Linked DNA regions of Homo sapiens. The protein of the gene in region 1 interacts with the protein of each later gene in a pairwise test. Each region holds a gene or a part of one and is shown in the gene's direction. Other genes may lie near its edges.

Region 1 (7,144 bases):
CTCACACCTGTAATCCCAGCACTTTGGGAGGCCGAGGCTGGCGGATCACATGAGGCCAAAAGTTTGAGACCAGCCTGGCCAACATGGTGAAACCCCGTCTCCACAAAAAATACAAAAATTAGCTGGGCATAGTGGCACACACCTGTAATCCCAGCTGCTCGGGAGGCTGAGGCAGGAGAATCACTTGAACCCGGGAGGTGGAGGTTGCAGTGAGCCAAGATCACACCACTGCACTCCAGCCTTGGTGACAGAGTGAGTGACAGTCCATCTCAGAAAAAAAAAAAAAAGAAGAAGAAGTGATGGGGTCAGGGGTTGGAGGACGTCATGCAGAGTGGTCCATTGATGGGACAGAGCCAGGGCAGCTCCTAGCCCATCTACTTACCACCTCAAGGAAAGATGGTCACCTTTTCCAGAAAGGCTGTTTCCTCACCCCTCAGACAGGCAGGCCTACTGAAACTGGCCAAAGATGGACTTATAAAATATAATTTCTTGGGTGCAGGATGGATGGCTTAGAGGGGAAAAGGCTCCCTGGGCTTGGATGTCCTCCTCTCATGGTGGGAAGGAACATTCCTCTTTCTGCAGGATGGAAAGAGAAGTTTTTCCTCCATCCTCACACACTGGCTTCCGCTGTCCAAAGGAGTGTGACTGCCCCCTCCACCCCTGCCTGGGGTGGGGCTGAGACAGATGCTTTGCCAAGGGTGGCTCGGCTCCTATCCTCCCAGCTGGCTCTATTGCAGCCTGCCAGTCTATCCTTCACTCTCATAAGGATCCCTCTCACCTATGGGGCCCTGGTACTAGTGGTCAGTAGCCCCAGTTACCATGGAGTCTGAATCATCTCTAATCCCTAAGGTTCTCCAGATAGACAGTGGGCTGAGTGGTTTCCTCCCAGGGAGGCTTTCCAGAAAGCTGTGGGTGTGGAAGAACCGTAAAAAAGAATCTCTTAAGGAGAAAGAGAAAACCCATGAACCTATGAGATGAGAGGGATTCAGGAGCTCTGGCTGGGAAAGTAAAATTGAATAATAAGACCTAGCCTGCCACTCAGTGTCTGAATTTTGCCTGTGCAGGCCCCATAACAACAAAGAAAATAGGGCAGCATGCCCACTCTCATCCTCCACCGGCAAATTCCAGCTAGAAGGTATTGGTTAAAGACCCTTCCAGATGCAAGGGTCAAGAAAGGAAGGATAAAGACAGACAGGCAGAGCCCAGGAGCCCTGAAGCAGGCCTGGCAGCTGCTTTACAAACAGAACAGCTTCTCTGCTTTCAAATGCTCTTCTTAAAGTTTGGCCTTCTAGGCTACCCTGGTTGCACTGGGATAGGGGTGGGGGTTGTGAACTCCTTGGTATTTATTTTCTGTTGCCTCGATTATTCTGACATGTACTGAGTGACTGCCCTTCTCTCATACTGAGATCTTTCAGGTGGAGTGCTCAATGACTGGTCTCGCATCACTATGAACCCCAAGGTGTTTAAGCTACATCCCCGCAGCGGGGAGCTGGAGGTACTGGTGGACGGCACCTACTTCATCTATAGTCAGGTAGAAGTGAGTACGGTCTTAGGCCTAACTCTTCTTATATCCAGAATGCAGATCCGGTGCAGGCCACATAGGGGCACTGTGGAGCCAGCCAAGACCATCCAATGGCTAACTTCCTGCTTTGGGTGAGGGGGTGGGGGGACCGCACTGGGAGGGAGTTGAAAGGAGGAAAGAGAGAGGGGGCCAGCTTCTTTTGTTTTGTTTTGTTTTGTTTTTCCTTAGCCAAATATTATTGAAAAACTGTGAAAAAGACCCCTCCCACACCCTGCCATCTGATTCCCTCCTGCAGGGCCTCAGGCCCCTGTTTACCCTCTGAGCTGTTTGGCTGCACTGCCAAACTTGAACTTGGTCTCAGTACATTCTTTGAAAGTCAGTTCCAGGGTTACTGAGAACCCTTTCCCTCAACACTGCTGGCTCGGACGTTGTAATGAATAGTGCTCCTGCAGACTTTCTTTCCACCTCAAAAAGATTTCTGACTGTCTTTCCTTCCTCTTTCTCCCATTTGTTTCCCTATCTTTCTATTCCTCTATTCTTGCCTCCTTCCTGCTGTCATTCTCCCAGCCCTTTCTCCCTCTGCTTTTGTCCTCTTCCTGCCCTGGGCCCGCTCCCCAAGTCCACCAGTGTCCATCTACTTCCGTTCCCCCATTGTTTGCCTCCATGGGAGTGGCTCCTTGGAGATAAAGGAAGATGAGCCATGAGGTTGGGATTTTTGTGGGATGGGCAGCAAGCAGGCAGGTGGACAGAAGGACTATGGAGCCAACAGATGGGTGTCACATGAGAGCGGCCAGAGAAGGTGGGCTAACAAGCATCTGCTAGGCACACTGAGCACCCCGCTGTAGCTTGGGTCCTGACCCGTATATGGCACCCAAATATGCTGTTCCCACCTGAAGAGCTGATAGAGGGAGTGACCTTTCATAAAATGATTTACGGTGATATCTGAGAGTCCCAACACCCATGGGGCACATGGGCATAACCCTGATGTCCTGTGAGCCAAGTTCCACGTGGTGGGGGTGGGCGGCAGATCAAAACTTGGTGTGAGGTATGATGGATAAGGGTAGTGAAGGATGGAAAAATTAATTTTCTGAGCCTAGGAGAGAATTGAGAGTGGCCCATGCAGGCTGGGAAAATCCCCATGACATTAGGCCACTGAGCATAAGTTAGTGCTTCCTTCTGGCCACAAAGTTAGGGGCCTGGGCTTTTCCAAATTCTTTGTCTTGTTTGTGGTAGCTAGCTCTCGATCTCTCTGGACCTGTTTCCTCAATCATCAGATGGGAGGCCCAAGGGGCACTGTGAATCAGTGAGGGGAGTCCAGGCCCAGGGGAGGGGTGGTGCAAGCTGAATAAGCTTCTGTTAAGGAGCTCAAGAAATCACAAGTTGTTACATGCCCTCTCTGGGGAATCAGTGACTTCTAAGTTTCTCCACAAATAGTCCGTGGGGCTCAAGAATGGAAGTCAGTTTGTGTCCACGGCACTGTGTACACACCTGCTACGTGCAGAGCACTCTGCTTCATGTCAGGGCTGGGGCAGGGGTGGGCGGGGGAACAGGGGCACGGTGAAGCTGCAAATAGGGCATGGTTCTTAGCCTTACAGAGTTTGCGACAAGTGTGCTGTTGTAAGAAAAGTTTGCTCAGCCAGCTGAGCCCCATGGACTAGGGGAAGAACAATGCCTGTCACCTGTCCTTTCCTGTTGGCCAGCTAGCACGCCTTCACATGGCACTGCCCCATCCATGGGGTATACTAACAGCTCATCTGAGAAGATTCTGTCAATTCACCACAGGGAGGGCCCCCCACCCTCTCTTTCCTCTCTTCCCCAATCCCTTCTTGTTGCCTCTCACTCAGGTATACTACATCAACTTCACTGACTTTGCCAGCTATGAGGTGGTGGTGGATGAGAAGCCCTTCCTGCAGTGCACACGCAGCATCGAGACGGGCAAGACCAACTACAACACTTGCTATACCGCAGGCGTCTGCCTCCTCAAGGCCCGGCAGAAGATCGCCGTCAAGATGGTGCACGCTGACATCTCCATCAACATGAGCAAGCACACCACGTTCTTTGGGGCCATCAGGCTGGGTGAAGCCCCTGCATCCTAGATTCCCCCCATTTTGCCTCTGTCCGTGCCCCTTCCCTGGGTTTGGGAGCCAGGACTCCCAGAACCTCTAAGTGCTGCTGTGGAGTGAGGTGTATTGGTGTTGCAGCCGCAGAGAAATGCCCCAGTGTTATTTATTCCCCAGTGACTCCAGGGTGACAAGGCCTGCTTGACTTTCCAGAATGACCTTGAGTTAACAGGACAGTTGATGGAGCCCCAGGGTTTACATGAAGCAGAACCTTCTTTGGTTCCATGTTGACTGACTTATGGCATGACTCTTCAACCCCGAGGTCCCTGTTGTCAGATCTATTGTTTGTTGCACTAAAATGAGGATCCAGGGCAGCAGGCCAGAGAAAGCAAAGGTGCACTCCAGACTCTGGGGGTGGACATCTGACCCCAAGGGGGCTGCTGCTCCTCTCTTGGGTAGGGTAGTGGCTGGGGTGGAGTGGGAAGGGAGCATTGCAGCCTAAGAAGAAGGCCAGAGAGGGAAAAGGCAGGTGCTTTTGGCAGAGACCATAAGAGAAACCTGCCAAGGAGCATCCTTGGCAGTGGGAATGTTCTTTCTGCTCTATACTGTGGCCTGCAGGAGGGTTGGAGTGCTCTTCCCACTCCAGCTGACAGCCACACCGTGGCAGCTTGCTGGGCTTTGGGAAGTTTGCTGTGCTTTGGAACAATCACAGGGAATGGCCACAAACCTGCCCGCCTAAGACCCTGAATCCGTACTTGGGTCACATGACTCTCATTTTATTTACAGCTGTGCTCCACACTCAGAAAATTCCCTGGGGTCACCTTCTAGTTGCCCCCATTCCCAGCCTGACTAGAACTCCTGTCTTCTTTCTCCATGGAGCCTACCTCTGTCTGAGACAGGTGCCTAACCTGGGACCTGTGGTCATGTGAGTCTGGGATATTCTTTAGCTTACCTGGGCACAAACAGAATTTTCCATTTATTAAGCAGTACAAATGTTTTTCATCCATTCCTAATCAAATTCTGTCTGGGGACGAAGGGTTGGACGGGATGACCTCCAGAAGTCCCTTCAATTTCTAGTACCTGTGACTCTTAGCCCTCACCACAGCCTTCTAAATTCCCAAATCCTAGACTGCTCCTGGGCATTAGCAAGGCAGAGCCTTTTTACCTGGCCTAGAAAGGGCAAGGGGTGAGGATAGGACAGAGGGATTTTGTTCAAGTTTGCTGCAACCCAAGTGGACGTTAGGCCAGGCCTTATCTGAAAGGCCAGCAGCTGATGCTGTACTAACCCAGTCTTTCTTCACTCTGGCTTCAAAAAGCCACAGCAGAGCATTGTCACCGCAGGTGCTCATGCTGCTCCCCTAAAGCCAGGCTCAGGAGAAGCCAGTGTCTAGGCACTGAGCAGGGATCTGCCCCCTAGTTCAGGTCCAAATTCACCTTCCCCTAAACCCCAAGCTTCCCAACAGATCATATGGTAGGACCCTCGAGAGCCTTACTTCAAAGTGCCTGGGCTCAGCCTGGTTTCTGGGTGCTAGATCCAGCCCAAACCTGGGAAGGCCAGCCTTGTACAGTCTGCTCCTCTTGTTCCTGAAATGTGTTTCCTTTTCAGGAGATGGGGAATAATTTCCTTCAGGCAGCTGAAATTCACCAAGAACAGCGGGTACTTATTTCTCAGCTGTGCCTTCCCTTTCTAAGCAACCACACTGCTTGGCCCTTCAAGGGTCAGGGTGAGACGTGATGGGCTAGGCCTCCGTTGTCTGGTTGCTAATGACAGCCTTGCAACCCAAGGTGAGGTGAACTCCAGGCATGTGTCTGGCCCTAACTCCTATAAAGTGCCTCGGACAGTCCGCAGTTGTAGCAGAAACCAACAAGAACCACTCCTTCATGTTTGGAAAATAATTTCTCTTGTATTATCTCCTTTGAAGAAGGCAAGGCTGATAATATGACAAACATCATTGTTTAGATGAGGCTCAGAGAGGTAGCACTCTCAGAGTGTTTTGACCAGTTTAAGCCGCAGACCTGGAGCTTCAGCCAGGTCTGACTCCAAAGCTGTTCCATTACACCACAGCATTGTGTGGAATTTGAGGTCTAGAGAGAACCAATAAAAGTGGTAATTGGGAACTGAAATCCTTGAGAGTTCCGGGGAGAAACCCAGAGATGCCTGATTTCATTCCTCGATGGTAATACCCGTCCTCTCGGCTGCCAGGGGCTCTGTGGCAAAAAGAGTCAGACATTTCTTTGGAAAACAGCGAACAGCCTTAGAGCTCTTGTGTTCAGAAGAATCTTCCTGGCACAATGTTGGAGCAGCAGGCCTCTGGGACCCACAGAACTTGTGGCCTTTATGTTCTTTCACCCATCCTAGGAACCAGCCAACCATCATGTGTAGAGCCCCTACTGTGGGCAAAGTCCTCCTTTCATTACCCTACAGACAGCTTACAGGAGCCAGCCTGCTTCCCACAACTACTAGTGTGACTCCTTATCTCTTTCCACCATACCTTAGAGACTTTGATACTACCAGGGTCTCTCAGGGATGGAGGGAAGACCTGAAAGAGAGGACTGGTTCTGAGGCCAGAAAGGTGTGAGGAGAGAGGAGGAAAAGTCTTCCTAATTGTGCCCCTAAAGAGCATCCTGATACCATTCTATTCTCCAGACATGGAGGGGATGATAAAGGAAATAGGATCTCCACTGGACCCTTGATTCATTCTGAACCCTCCAAAGGAACTCTAGAGGGCGAGGGATGATGAGGGAAGCAATAGGTAGCTGGGGAGCCCTATTGCTGCTAAGTCATTGGCAAAGTGACAAAGCAATTTACTGATGAGAGAATGTGGAAATAGATGTGCAGTTTGGAATTATGTTGGTGTGAATTTGCCAGAGGACCAATGCTTGCATGGAGAATGGGACGAGGACATTTGTGGGCAAGCAGATGACAGAGGTTTGAAGGAGAATGGCATGGCAGGAGTCTCTGCCAGTTACTTGGGCTTCAACAGCCAAGCTGGCACAAAAGACAGCTGGCGGAGGCTGCTCGGCTACTGGTTACCTGGAGAAGTAGTATTTGCCTATTTCCCCCTTCATCCATCCTGAGCCAAATTTCTTTTGCTGAACAGGAAAGAGCTAGGAACCCTGGAGGTAAACAAAGACTTTGATCCATGTATGAGTGTATGTGTTTATGTAACTTCCTGTGGATGCAAATAGATTCAGAGAAATTTAGAGCTAAAAAGGCCCTTAGAGGGAATCTAGCCCAACCTACATTCCACCCTGTTACTTATGTAGAAACTGAGGCCCAGAGAGGGAAGATGACCTGCCCCAAGTGGTGAGCAAGCACCAACCTCCAGACTCAGCAGAGTGAGGGGGTAAAGCAGTTCCTGTCCCACATGGCCATCTTCTTTCTTCCACCCACAAACTCCAGGCTGGAAGTACTTGGCCCCCTTCAGGAGCCTGGCCAGGCAGGGAGAGAGTAGCTGCAGCCTTCATCAGAACTCTTCCTCCTCCCAAGGCATTCTCCCAGCTCTAGCCTCTGGACTGGAAAGCACAAGACTGGCCCAGTGCCAGCAAGTCCTTAGGCTAC
Region 2 (7,000 bases), on another chromosome or scaffold:
ACTCCATCTTTAGTTTTCAACCCCCAACCCCCGCACAAAAAAAAAGGTTGACTAACTCACTCACATTAATAGGGGGTATATTTATTAAGTGGCATTCATTTTAAATCCTTAAGACTTTCTCAATACTACCTCCCCATATTCTCTTCCCCCAGAAAAGATTCTGAATTTCCAACTCCTACAGGGTTAAGAAGAATATTTTACTTGTAAATACACTTGTAAAGCATTGTTTCAATATTTAAAAAACAATAATGAAGGCAAACCTACAGACAATATAGCAACAGCAATAAGCTAAATTGTCAGTTTTAGAGAGAAAAATATCTCTGTGCTGTTGTTTAATGAATTCTCCTCAAGACAGAGCTTTAACATGAGAAGCACTTCATTATGGGTCAATTTAGGAATGAGAATATATTGATTTTTATGCATATACAATTATTTTCATAACCAGACAGAAGCAGCTTGAAGATTCTTTCAAACAGCCAGTCTGGACCAACAAAGCTCTGGAATGTTGCTACCACAAAGTAACTTCAAATAGAATGTCCAAGTTTAGTATTAGGCAATCTCAAAAGGAAAATGACTCCACTGGAGTGAACTTTTGTAAGCCAACAGATTCATCGTAAATCTAATGATGAACTGTCCTAATTTATTACCACAAGTCCAAAAAAGGGTATATGCACATTCACTTATGGCTTATCAGTGGAAATGTCAGAAAGTAGTAGAAAAATAAAATTCCAAACAATCCAAATATAGACAAGTCCTGTTTATTCAATCTATAGAAAATTCTAATCTTCTAAACCAATTAGATGGAAAAAACATCCTAGAGTATATCAGACTGTAGCCTTAGATATTACTTGAATTCAATTTAATAAAGTATTTCTTCAGTACTCCCATGTTTACTAAAAGAATAAACAAAATTAAAAGGAGAAAAGCAAAATTCTAAATTCTACAAACATAAAGAATCCCAGGAATTTATTATTTCAGCAAAAGGAATACCACCAAAAATACTGAAGTTTGAGAAGTTCTGCAAGAAGTGAACATACTTAAAGTATAGATGGAGATTAATGCTCAGCATATACAACATCATTAAAGTATCAATTGTCTAGCAAGTCATAAAGCAGGCCACCAAAAGTTTTCAGAAGACTATTGAGGTTCCTTCCGCACAAGAATGCATCTGATATTACATTGCTAAAACAGGACTCACTGCAGACAAAGTAAGGACTCCTGAAGGAGTTGATATATAGTAGCTTCCACCAAACATGTTGCCTAACATGGTATATGACATTAGTCAAAAGATTAGAGTTGCCTAATGGCTTTTCTATTTCCTTCTTCCACCTCAAAAAAAAAACCAGAATACCATCTTGAACTTGATTTTTTTTTTAATTTCCAGCGTTACTTTTCTTGAGGAAAGGACGACAACCAAAGGATTTATAAATCCCACAAAGAATAGTAAAGAATTCTTTATTTTTATTCTTCTCATTCCCCTAAAAAGTAGAGTAATCATGGATCCACAGACATAAGATACTCTGTGGATACTTTCCTGCCTCTGACATGTAACTCAAGAGACAGGAGTCTGGCATTTCTACACCCAAACTCCTAACAAGCACCTTTCATGTTTTCAATACTCTTGATTCTAGGGCCTAGAAGACAATTTGATTTTAAAATTCATCTATAAATGAATACCACTCTTGTGTCAAAACAACCAATTTATATATATTGTCATTCTTTTAATAAAAGGGTGGAGAGCAGCTTCAGTTTCCATGGTTGTTTAGGCCATATACAAGTTCAGAAAATCCCAAAACTATTTATGATTAGACTAACAGAATGCTCTAAAAAGATCAGATAACATGAAAATAAAACTAAACTATTTTTGTATGCTTTCCATCGAAAAAGTACTCTATTAAACAGCTTAGCTGTTAAGAAATTAAAAAAAAAAAAAAAAAGGAAACTCATACAGTGGTTGTCAGTGCAGAGAAGAGAATGATAAACATCTGACAACCATGCCATAAATTATAATGTAGTAAAGGTCACAGACAACTCCAAAAATAGGATTCTGCTGTTCCCACAACAAAGGTTTTCAATTCTCAATGTATGACAGGAAGCCCCATCTTCTATGGATAAAATCTGGCCTAATTATCATCATACAAATGTTGGTATTCAGTAGAACTAGGATTCCACACATTTCAGATGATAACTGTAAAAAATTGAGCCCAATAAATTAAATGTATATCATTAACATTTTAGCGTGTAAAGCAGATTTAAGTTTAGGCATAAAATCATAAAGTAGTTACAAATAACTTTAGGATTATGGCATATTTCTAAATCTGACAAGAAACAGGATACTATTTTTGGTCATCTCCTTTACACCCAATTTGTTTCCAGAAACAAACTCTTCTTTTTCAATAACAGTTAGCTGTTGTAGGATTATAAGATCATCTTTAAAGTATGTTAACTATGCTTTAAACAGTAAAGAGCTCATCTCTTTAGGGCATATCTCTGTATTTCACAAATACTAAAAACCCATTTATACAAAGCCTAGTTCAGGTTAATACTGTGTTAATCAGGTAACCATTAATTTAGGTGAATCCTCTAAGCCTCATTTTTCTCACCTGTGATAGAAAGAGACTTGAGGAAAATATTAGAGCTTACATGTCCAACTAACAAATTGTTATTAGAACTAGTTAATCTGTCAATCACAGCATTATTTTTAAAATTGTTTAACTTATTATTAAAAATGAGGGCCAGGCATGGTCATTCACACTTGTAATCCCAGGAATTACCTGAGCTCAGGAGTTTGAGACCAGCCTGTGCAGCACAGTGAAACCCTGTCCCTACCAAAAATACAAAAATTAGCCAGGCATGGTGGCGCACACCTGTGGTCTCAGCTACTCAGGAGGCTGAGGCAGGGAGATCGCTAGAGCCTGGGAAGTTGAGGTGCAGTGAGCCACGATTGCACAACTGCACTCCAGCCTGGGTGACAGAGCAAGACCCTGTCAGTCATTCATTCATCCATTCATAAAAACAATTAATTAATTAAAAATGAGATGGGGTCTCATTATGTTGCCCAAGCTGGTCTCGAACTCCTGGGCTCAAACATTCGTCCCGCCTAGGCCTTCCAAAGTGTTGGAATTATAGATGTGAGCCACCATGCCCTGCCCACAGCATTATTTTTAATTAACAATTTTCTAATAGTTTTAGTCATAAAAATCCCTTATTTAACTTTAGTGATTTATTGAAGCATACCAATTATGCACTAAGTACTAGGATACTAAATAAACACACAGTTTCTTTACTTCAGAAACTATCAGTCTAGCTGGGGATACAAACATGTAAATTGAAATTGTGCTATAATCTGACAGATATCCTCATATAGATAACACTAAAGCCCTATTAAAAACCAGTAGAGGTGACAACCAATTCCACCTTAATAACTAATGAAAGGTTTCACTAGGAAGTGATATTTAAACTGAACCTTAAGAATCAACTGAAGCTTGCATGGCAGACAATCAAAAGGTGGAGAACACATTCCAGGCAGAGATAGAACAACATGTGCAAAGAACAAAATCACAAAAGGGAATGGAGTATTTATGGAAAGGTGACATGTTTCATGTGACTGAAGTACAACTTACCAGTGTCAACGTAGGGGATGACTCCTGTATATGCTTCATGATAAACTCCTGGCCAACTCCCTCCTTTCCCATGTTTTGTCTCAAAATAATTTTTAAAATTTCTGACCTTTTAAGACCACTTAAGCCCAAAAACCTCACAAAACCATATGTTCAAATAGGAATTACCAAGTCTAATTATTATTCCTTTCTTAACTGTATTCTGCTACACATCTTCATAAAAGGTGACTACTCGGCCAGGTGCAGTGGCTCACGCCTGCAATCCCAGCACTTTGGGAGGCCGAGGCGGGTGGATCACGAGGTCGGGAGATCGAGACCATCCTGGCTAACATGGTGAAACCCCGTCTCTACTAAAAACACAAAAAAATTAGGCATGGTGGCGGGCACCTGTAGTCCCAGCTACTCGGGAGGCTAAGGCAGGAGAATGGCGTGAACCCGGGAGGTGGAGCTTGCAGTGAGCCGAGATCGTGCCACTGCACTCCAGCCTGGGCAACACAGCAAGACTGTCTCAAAAAAAAAAAAAAAAAGTGACTACTCAAATATAAATAAAATCTTCCCATAATTTTCCAATCCACTAGATCTACAATAAGCAAATATCAACATAAGCAAATATCAACATAAGCAACTTAAAGGATGAATCTCAATAAAGAACAAAAGAAAATCTATTTATATTTTACCTGAAGAATTCAAACAAAAGTCATTAAATATATGTCAAGTTTAAGCTGCTATGTCCCTTATTTTTAACTTTTGTTTTAAGTTTGGGGGTATGTGTGAAGGTTTGTTACACAGGTAAACACATGTCATGGGGAGCTTGTTGTATGTATTACTTCATCATCCCGTTATTAAGCCCAGTACCCAACAGTTTTCTGCTCCTCTGCCTCCTCCCATCCTCCCCGCTCAAGTAGACCCCAGCGTCTGTTGTTTCCTTCTTTGTGTTCATAAGTTCTTATCATCTTGCTCCCACCTGTAAGTGAGAACCTGTGGTATTTGGTTTTCTTTTCCTATGTTAGTTTGCTAGGGATAATGACCTCCAGCTCCATCCATGTTCCCGCAAAAGACATGATATCATTCTTTTTTATGGCTGCATAGTATTGCATGGTGTATATGTACCACATTTTCTTTATCCAGTCTGTCACTGATGAGCACTTAGGCCGGTTCATGTCTTTGCTATTGTGAATAGTGCTGCAATGAATATTCATGGGTGTATGTCTTTACGGCAGAAAGATTTACACTCCTCTGGATATATACCCAGTAATGGGATTGTTGGGTCGAATGGTAGTTCTGCTTTTATAAGCTGCTATTTTCTAAGTAGAAGTGTTATAGACAACCTAAATAACAGCCTTTAGCCACCTGTTTAGACAATGAAGAATATATGCTAGAAAAATACAGGTAGTTAATAACTCTTTAAGGAAAGAAAATTTGATAGAAGTTGAGTGTTTGGAACTCCTTGCTACAGACCAATATTATGAAGGGGGACAGAGTCTCAAGCCAAAAATGCCCAGTCTACTATATAATTCAGAATATAATAGACCCAAGTTGAACACTACAGAATCTAAACACCATAAACCATATGGTTTCTTTGCCAAAGTAAATGCCGGGTTCTAACTAGTCATGCCTGATACTTACCTTCCCCTTTGCCATTCTTTCAGCACTTCCTTCTGCTCCCTTCAGCACTTTCCTCTCTCAGGAATGGGCTAACAGGTTGAGATGGGCTTTTATGGGATGTATAAAAGGACTTAGGAGAAAATAAAATCTGACACCTGGGGTAAGGTAGTAATATGTTGATTAACAATAATATATCAACAAATGTTAACAGTCACTATGTCTGGCAGTTAATTACTGACTTTTTTTCTCCGTTTTTCATTTTTCTTATTTCAAAATTGACACATAAGTATACTGATTGAAAACAAAATGTCCCCAAGTGTTAATAACGATTATCTCTGGACAGTTAATACAGTTAATTTTCAGTCTATATATAATTTTTCTGTAATGACATGTAAATTCTTATTTTATTAATCATCAAAGTATAGGCCCCACAGGCAGCAATAGCTTGTGGGATCTCTGAAAGAAGGCATGATGGAAACTACTACTATTAAGTAGAAGTCTGTAAATAGGATATGTCTGTGGTAGTGAGATAATAATAATTACTATGTGTTCCAAGCTTGACAGTCTTCAGTACTTAACATCAAATCTTATTAAAATGTTACTTAAGATAACATTCTATAAAACTATAAAATCATAAAAAGGAATAACAATTTGAATCTATATTTTTGGTAAAACACTTCCCATTTAACACTATTTTATTTTAGATTAAAATTAAGATCCAGGGAACAATTTGTTGTATGCATTTCCTTTTTATGAGATTGGCTCTGGAGCTATTAATACAGTGACTGATCAAACCAATTACATCTACAGAGTAACAGATTTAAAGAAACTATATGTTAGAACTTTTACCCAAAAGAATAACCCAAAACAAGCTGTACCTTAAACCAAATACAGCAGGTCCTCAAATAACATCATTTCTATGTCATTTTGTTATAACATTTAAGTATGTGTGGGGCTTGCATATTCTCCCCACATCTGTGGGACTCTGGTTTCCTCCCATATCCCAAAACAGTGCACATTAGGTTCACTGGCATGTTTAAGTTGTCCTGGGTTGAGTGTGAGTGTGTACATGAGTGTATCCTGTGATGGAGTGGCCTCCTATCCAAGGTGGGTTCCTCCCTCCTTGAGCTGCTGGGATTGGCTCCAGCCACCAGCACCCCAAACCAGAATAAGAGGGTTGAAAAATGAATGAATGGATGAATACAAATTATTATCGAATAAAAATTGGTAAAGTCTACGGTGATCATACAAATGCATGACAATAAACGCTATGGCACAAAAGCACTCAGAGATCCCACCGTATTTGAATTGTTTTTGATCTGCATGGAGCTGGATGTGCTCCTGACAATTTTCATTTCTCAAACATGATTCCATGTTTTTAATAGACCACCACAACCACTGTTACTCACTGATTCACCAAATACTGGGTAATTATCTTTGTTGGCTTTTTTTTTTTTTTCCTGGGACAGAGTTTTGCTCTGTCACCCAGGCTGGAGTACAGTGGCATGATCTGGGCTCAATGCAACCCCTGCCTCCTGGGCTCCAGCGATCCTCCCAAGTAGCTAGGATTACAGGCACATGCCACCAGCCTAGCTAATTTTTATATTTTTAGTAGAGACAGGGTTTCACCATGTTGGCCAGGCTGGTCTCAAACTCCTGACCTCAGGGGAACTGCCCGCCTTGGCCTCCCAAAGTGCTGGGATTACAGGCATGAGCCACTGCACCTGGCCTATCTGGTTTTTATTAATCTTTCTTAAATGTATACATAGTTCATA
Region 3 (3,729 bases), on another chromosome or scaffold:
CAAAGACTTTCTGGGACTGGAAGTTTCCACTACTTCAAATAAACCAATCTTATTTACAGCAAGGCAATTTTTTTTTCTCTATTCTGGTAAGTTTGTTACTTTAATTTCAATTTTTTTAATGCCTACTCTTTGTTCCATAGAAGAATGCTTTCTCCATTTCATGCCTTTCTGGTTGGGGGAGATAATCAACTGATTTGCTTCAAAATATTTCCTGATTTTCTGTAAGTTGAGGGGAGGGAAGTAATCGTGCACTATTTTAGCATAACCTAACATCTAACATCACCTGCTTTGTTTAAAGTTATTTACAGATGTTTCAAAGTAAAGTATGAGTTAGAAAATTAGGGATGGAAATGGCTCATTTGAGAATGATTATTCTTAGATGTCTGAATTGAGGTGCCCTCAGGCTCTACCAGCTCCCAAACGTACATCTGCTTTTTATCCTTTTCCTGTTTTTATTCCAGGAGAGAATGGGAGGATTCCAGAGGGGCAAATATGGAACTATGGCTGAAGGTAAGAAAGTCTTGAAGTTCTCAAGAGCCCCAGACACTTGGGAGAATCACAATTCTCTCCCCATCTACCCCCATCTAAAACACAGTGGCAGAAACCCATTCATTTTAAATGAAGAAGATAAAGGCAACTATCATCACGTGTGTGTTATCAAACCATCACACACACACACAGACACACACACACACCATAGTGTGATGCTCTCCCTGCATCAGGTATGTGGGAAATGTGGAAAGGAAACCAAGTCATAGGTTGAAGGGTCTGGAAGCAAATGGTGAATATGTTTTCTCTTTCTTTGTCTGCTGACAGCTCAAAAAGAAAAGGTCCCCATAGGGATTTAGTCATTGTGCTTGCTACAAAACACCACAGAATAACTTAAGAAAACGAAGAACCAACCCAGAGTGGGAGAAATAAAATAATAGATTTTTAAGAGCCTAAAATGCACTTCGAATTCATTTGGGCTCTAGAAATCCACAGGTTCTCCCCTCTTCGTGCCTGAAGATTTTCGCTCCTGCCACAGTGTCACCCTCTCCAACACCACTTCTGCTATAATTTTGTGTGCTTCAATCAGCCACATAGATGAGCTTTTCAACACACATGCTTCTATTGAGCTTATCTTCCACCTTTTTGAGCCATCCACCCTAGGGTCATCTCCCAGACGCTGCCCTAACATTAACTACAACCTATGTCATCTCAATTTCAAACATTTCACTCCCTATCCAGAGGGCACAGACCCAGGGACAGGCAGCTGACCCCCGGCAGTGGGTCACTATAGATTTGCCAGTGGAGACCTCCTTGACCCTCAAGACTTGGATGAATGTGTGGAGTGTGTCTATACAAGTGTGCCTGGAAATGTGTGGGTGAAAGAGAAGTAATTGGATTTTCTCACTTGTAACTACTAATCCCCTGCCTCTTTCTAATAATTCTCCATGGAGCTGGCCTAAACACCACGCAGGGGAAAACACAAGGACCATTTTCTTTCAGGAAAGCTCTATTTGCCACAATCCAGATGAAGTGCTTAAAGCATCCCCTTAATGCAACAGTTCTAATTCCTGGCTGTGGATCCAAGCATGGGCTTCCAATGGGGCTTTCTACATGCAAGATTCACCTATAGTTGTATGCACACTTTTATGTACACATAAATATGTCTGTCATTCTGGGGAGGACGTTCATAGCTTTCATGAGATAACCATGAACAATGACCTAACAGTCTTAAGAATCATTAACTTAGTAAGATACAAAACTTCGTTTTCTACAGGTAGATCAGAAGATAACTTGTCTGCAACACCACCGGCATTGAGGATTATCCTAGTGGGCAAAACAGGCTGCGGGAAAAGTGCCACAGGGAACAGCATCCTTGGCCAGCCCGTGTTTGAGTCCAAGCTGAGGGCCCAGTCAGTGACCAGGACGTGCCAGGTGAAAACAGGAACATGGAACGGGAGGAAAGTCCTGGTGGTTGACACGCCCTCCATCTTTGAGTCACAGGCCGATACCCAAGAGCTGTACAAGAACATCGGGGACTGCTACCTGCTCTCTGCCCCGGGGCCCCACGTCCTGCTTCTGGTGATCCAGCTGGGGCGTTTCACTGCTCAGGACACAGTGGCCATCAGGAAGGTGAAAGAGGTCTTTGGGACAGGGGCCATGAGACATGTGGTCATCCTCTTCACCCACAAAGAGGACTTAGGGGGCCAGGCCCTGGATGACTATGTAGCAAACACGGACAACTGCAGCCTGAAAGACCTGGTGCGGGAGTGTGAGAGAAGGTACTGTGCCTTCAACAACTGGGGCTCTGTGGAGGAGCAGAGGCAGCAGCAGGCAGAGCTCCTGGCTGTGATTGAGAGGCTGGGGAGGGAGCGAGAGGGCTCCTTCCACAGCAATGACCTCTTCTTGGATGCCCAGCTGCTCCAAAGAACTGGAGCTGGGGCCTGCCAGGAAGACTACAGGCAGTACCAGGCCAAAGTGGAATGGCAGGTGGAGAAGCACAAGCAAGAGCTGAGGGAGAACGAGAGTAACTGGGCATACAAGGCGCTCCTCAGAGTCAAACACTTGATGCTTTTGCATTATGAGATTTTTGTTTTTCTATTGTTGTGCAGCATACTTTTTTTCATTATTTTTCTGTTCATCTTTCATTACATTTAAATCTCTGGACCCTGGAGCACTTCTAATGTATCACCCCATGGAGTCATTGTTCTAATAATCACCAATTCAGACTCAGATCCTCGTGGTCTATGGAGCATGCTGCTTGCTGTCTGTGCAGCTCCCATTTCCCCTTCTTCCTGATAGACTTGGAGCTGTGTGCCTCCACTCCAAGGCTGCCTGCCTGCTGTAAACACTATTCCACTCTGTCTGCCAACAACTGCTTCAGGAATGGGCCTGAGATCCCATGCAGGTCCCTGAGAAGTGAGTAAAAGTCCGCAGAGGTGGGGATGGAAGATCTCTCCTTAGATAGAACCTGTCTTCCTCCCTGGCATTGTGGGGTCTGGGCGTGACACTGGGACTCTCAGCAGCTTTGTGCTGCCAACCTGAGATTGAAGGCAGTGCCTCAGAGCAGCACAGAGAGTTGGGGCCCCCTGAGCCCTGAGCCACCAGCCCTGCAGCCTGCCCTATCTCCGCATTTCCAGTTGTATTAGCCAATAGATTTCCTACTTATTTAAGCTATTTGAGCTCCGGGTCTCTTCTACCTGCATTCTAAAACATTCAAAGTAATAAAAATTTCTCCACATTCCTTTTTATCCTTTAAATCTGTTGGAACTTCCCAGTCCACATGCTTCCTTTGAGCAAGTGGCATCTAGAATAAAGGAACAGGGTTGGCTTTTCTTGTTCCTAAAATTAGGAAGAACCTCCTGCTCCTACTGAAGTGCCTGCCACATAGTGGACATTCCCTGAACTCTGAGTAAAGCAAAACACTTTCAGATGGATGGATTGCATTGACGAATGGGAGTGGGAGAGGGTCAAGGAAATGGGGTGCCCTGTACGCAGGGCTTTCTCTGTGCTTTCTTCTCAGTTTGGCCAGGGGCCCAAAAGAAACACAGCTCACATTTCAATGCTCTGCAAGGAATCACTTTGGCAAATGTTCACACATGAGAAAGGTTAAGCAAACTCTTTCTCCTTCTCCACTGTAAAATGTCCTTGGATCAACTCTCCAGCTCTATTTCTTTGGAAGTCAATGTCCACAGGGTGGGGGTGGGGGACAGGTTGTTGACTGGGTACCAGGCAATCCTG

What was found. The genes of interacting proteins can lie anywhere in the genome.
Region 2: the proteins of EDA (region 1) and PLN interact in binary tests that used the Homo sapiens proteins (3 or more experiments, as listed by UniProt).
Region 3: the proteins of EDA (region 1) and GIMAP5 interact in binary tests that used the Homo sapiens proteins (3 or more experiments, as listed by UniProt).

The regions. Positions count from the first base shown.
Region 1 is NC_000023.11:70,031,992-70,039,135, forward strand, and holds part of EDA (ectodysplasin-A), read left to right. Parts: intron 1-1,406; coding exon 1,407-1,537; intron 1,538-2,089; coding exon of another isoform or gene 2,090-2,209; exon of another isoform or gene 2,210-3,055; intron 3,056-3,366; coding exon 3,367-3,618; 3' UTR 3,619-7,144. UniProt on the Homo sapiens protein: Cytokine which is involved in epithelial-mesenchymal signaling during morphogenesis of ectodermal organs. Functions as a ligand activating the DEATH-domain containing receptors EDAR and EDA2R. May also play a role in cell adhesion.
Region 2 is NC_000006.12:118,551,296-118,558,295, forward strand, and holds part of PLN (phospholamban), read left to right. Parts: intron 1-7,000. UniProt on the Homo sapiens protein: Reversibly inhibits the activity of ATP2A2/SERCA2 in cardiac sarcoplasmic reticulum by decreasing the apparent affinity of the ATPase for Ca(2+).
Region 3 is NC_000007.14:150,740,418-150,744,146, forward strand, and holds the end of GIMAP5 (GTPase IMAP family member 5), read left to right. Parts: intron 1-461; coding exon of another isoform or gene 462-467; coding exon 468-510; intron 511-1,765; coding exon 1,766-2,646; 3' UTR 2,647-3,229; downstream 3,230-3,729. Other genes in the region: GIMAP1-GIMAP5 protein, read left to right, coding at 462-510, 1,766-2,646. UniProt on the Homo sapiens protein: Plays a role in T lymphocyte development and the optimal generation of CD4/CD8 double-positive thymocytes. Inhibitor of GSK3A, possibly by sequestering GSK3A in cytoplasmic vesicles and impairing its translocation to the nucleus.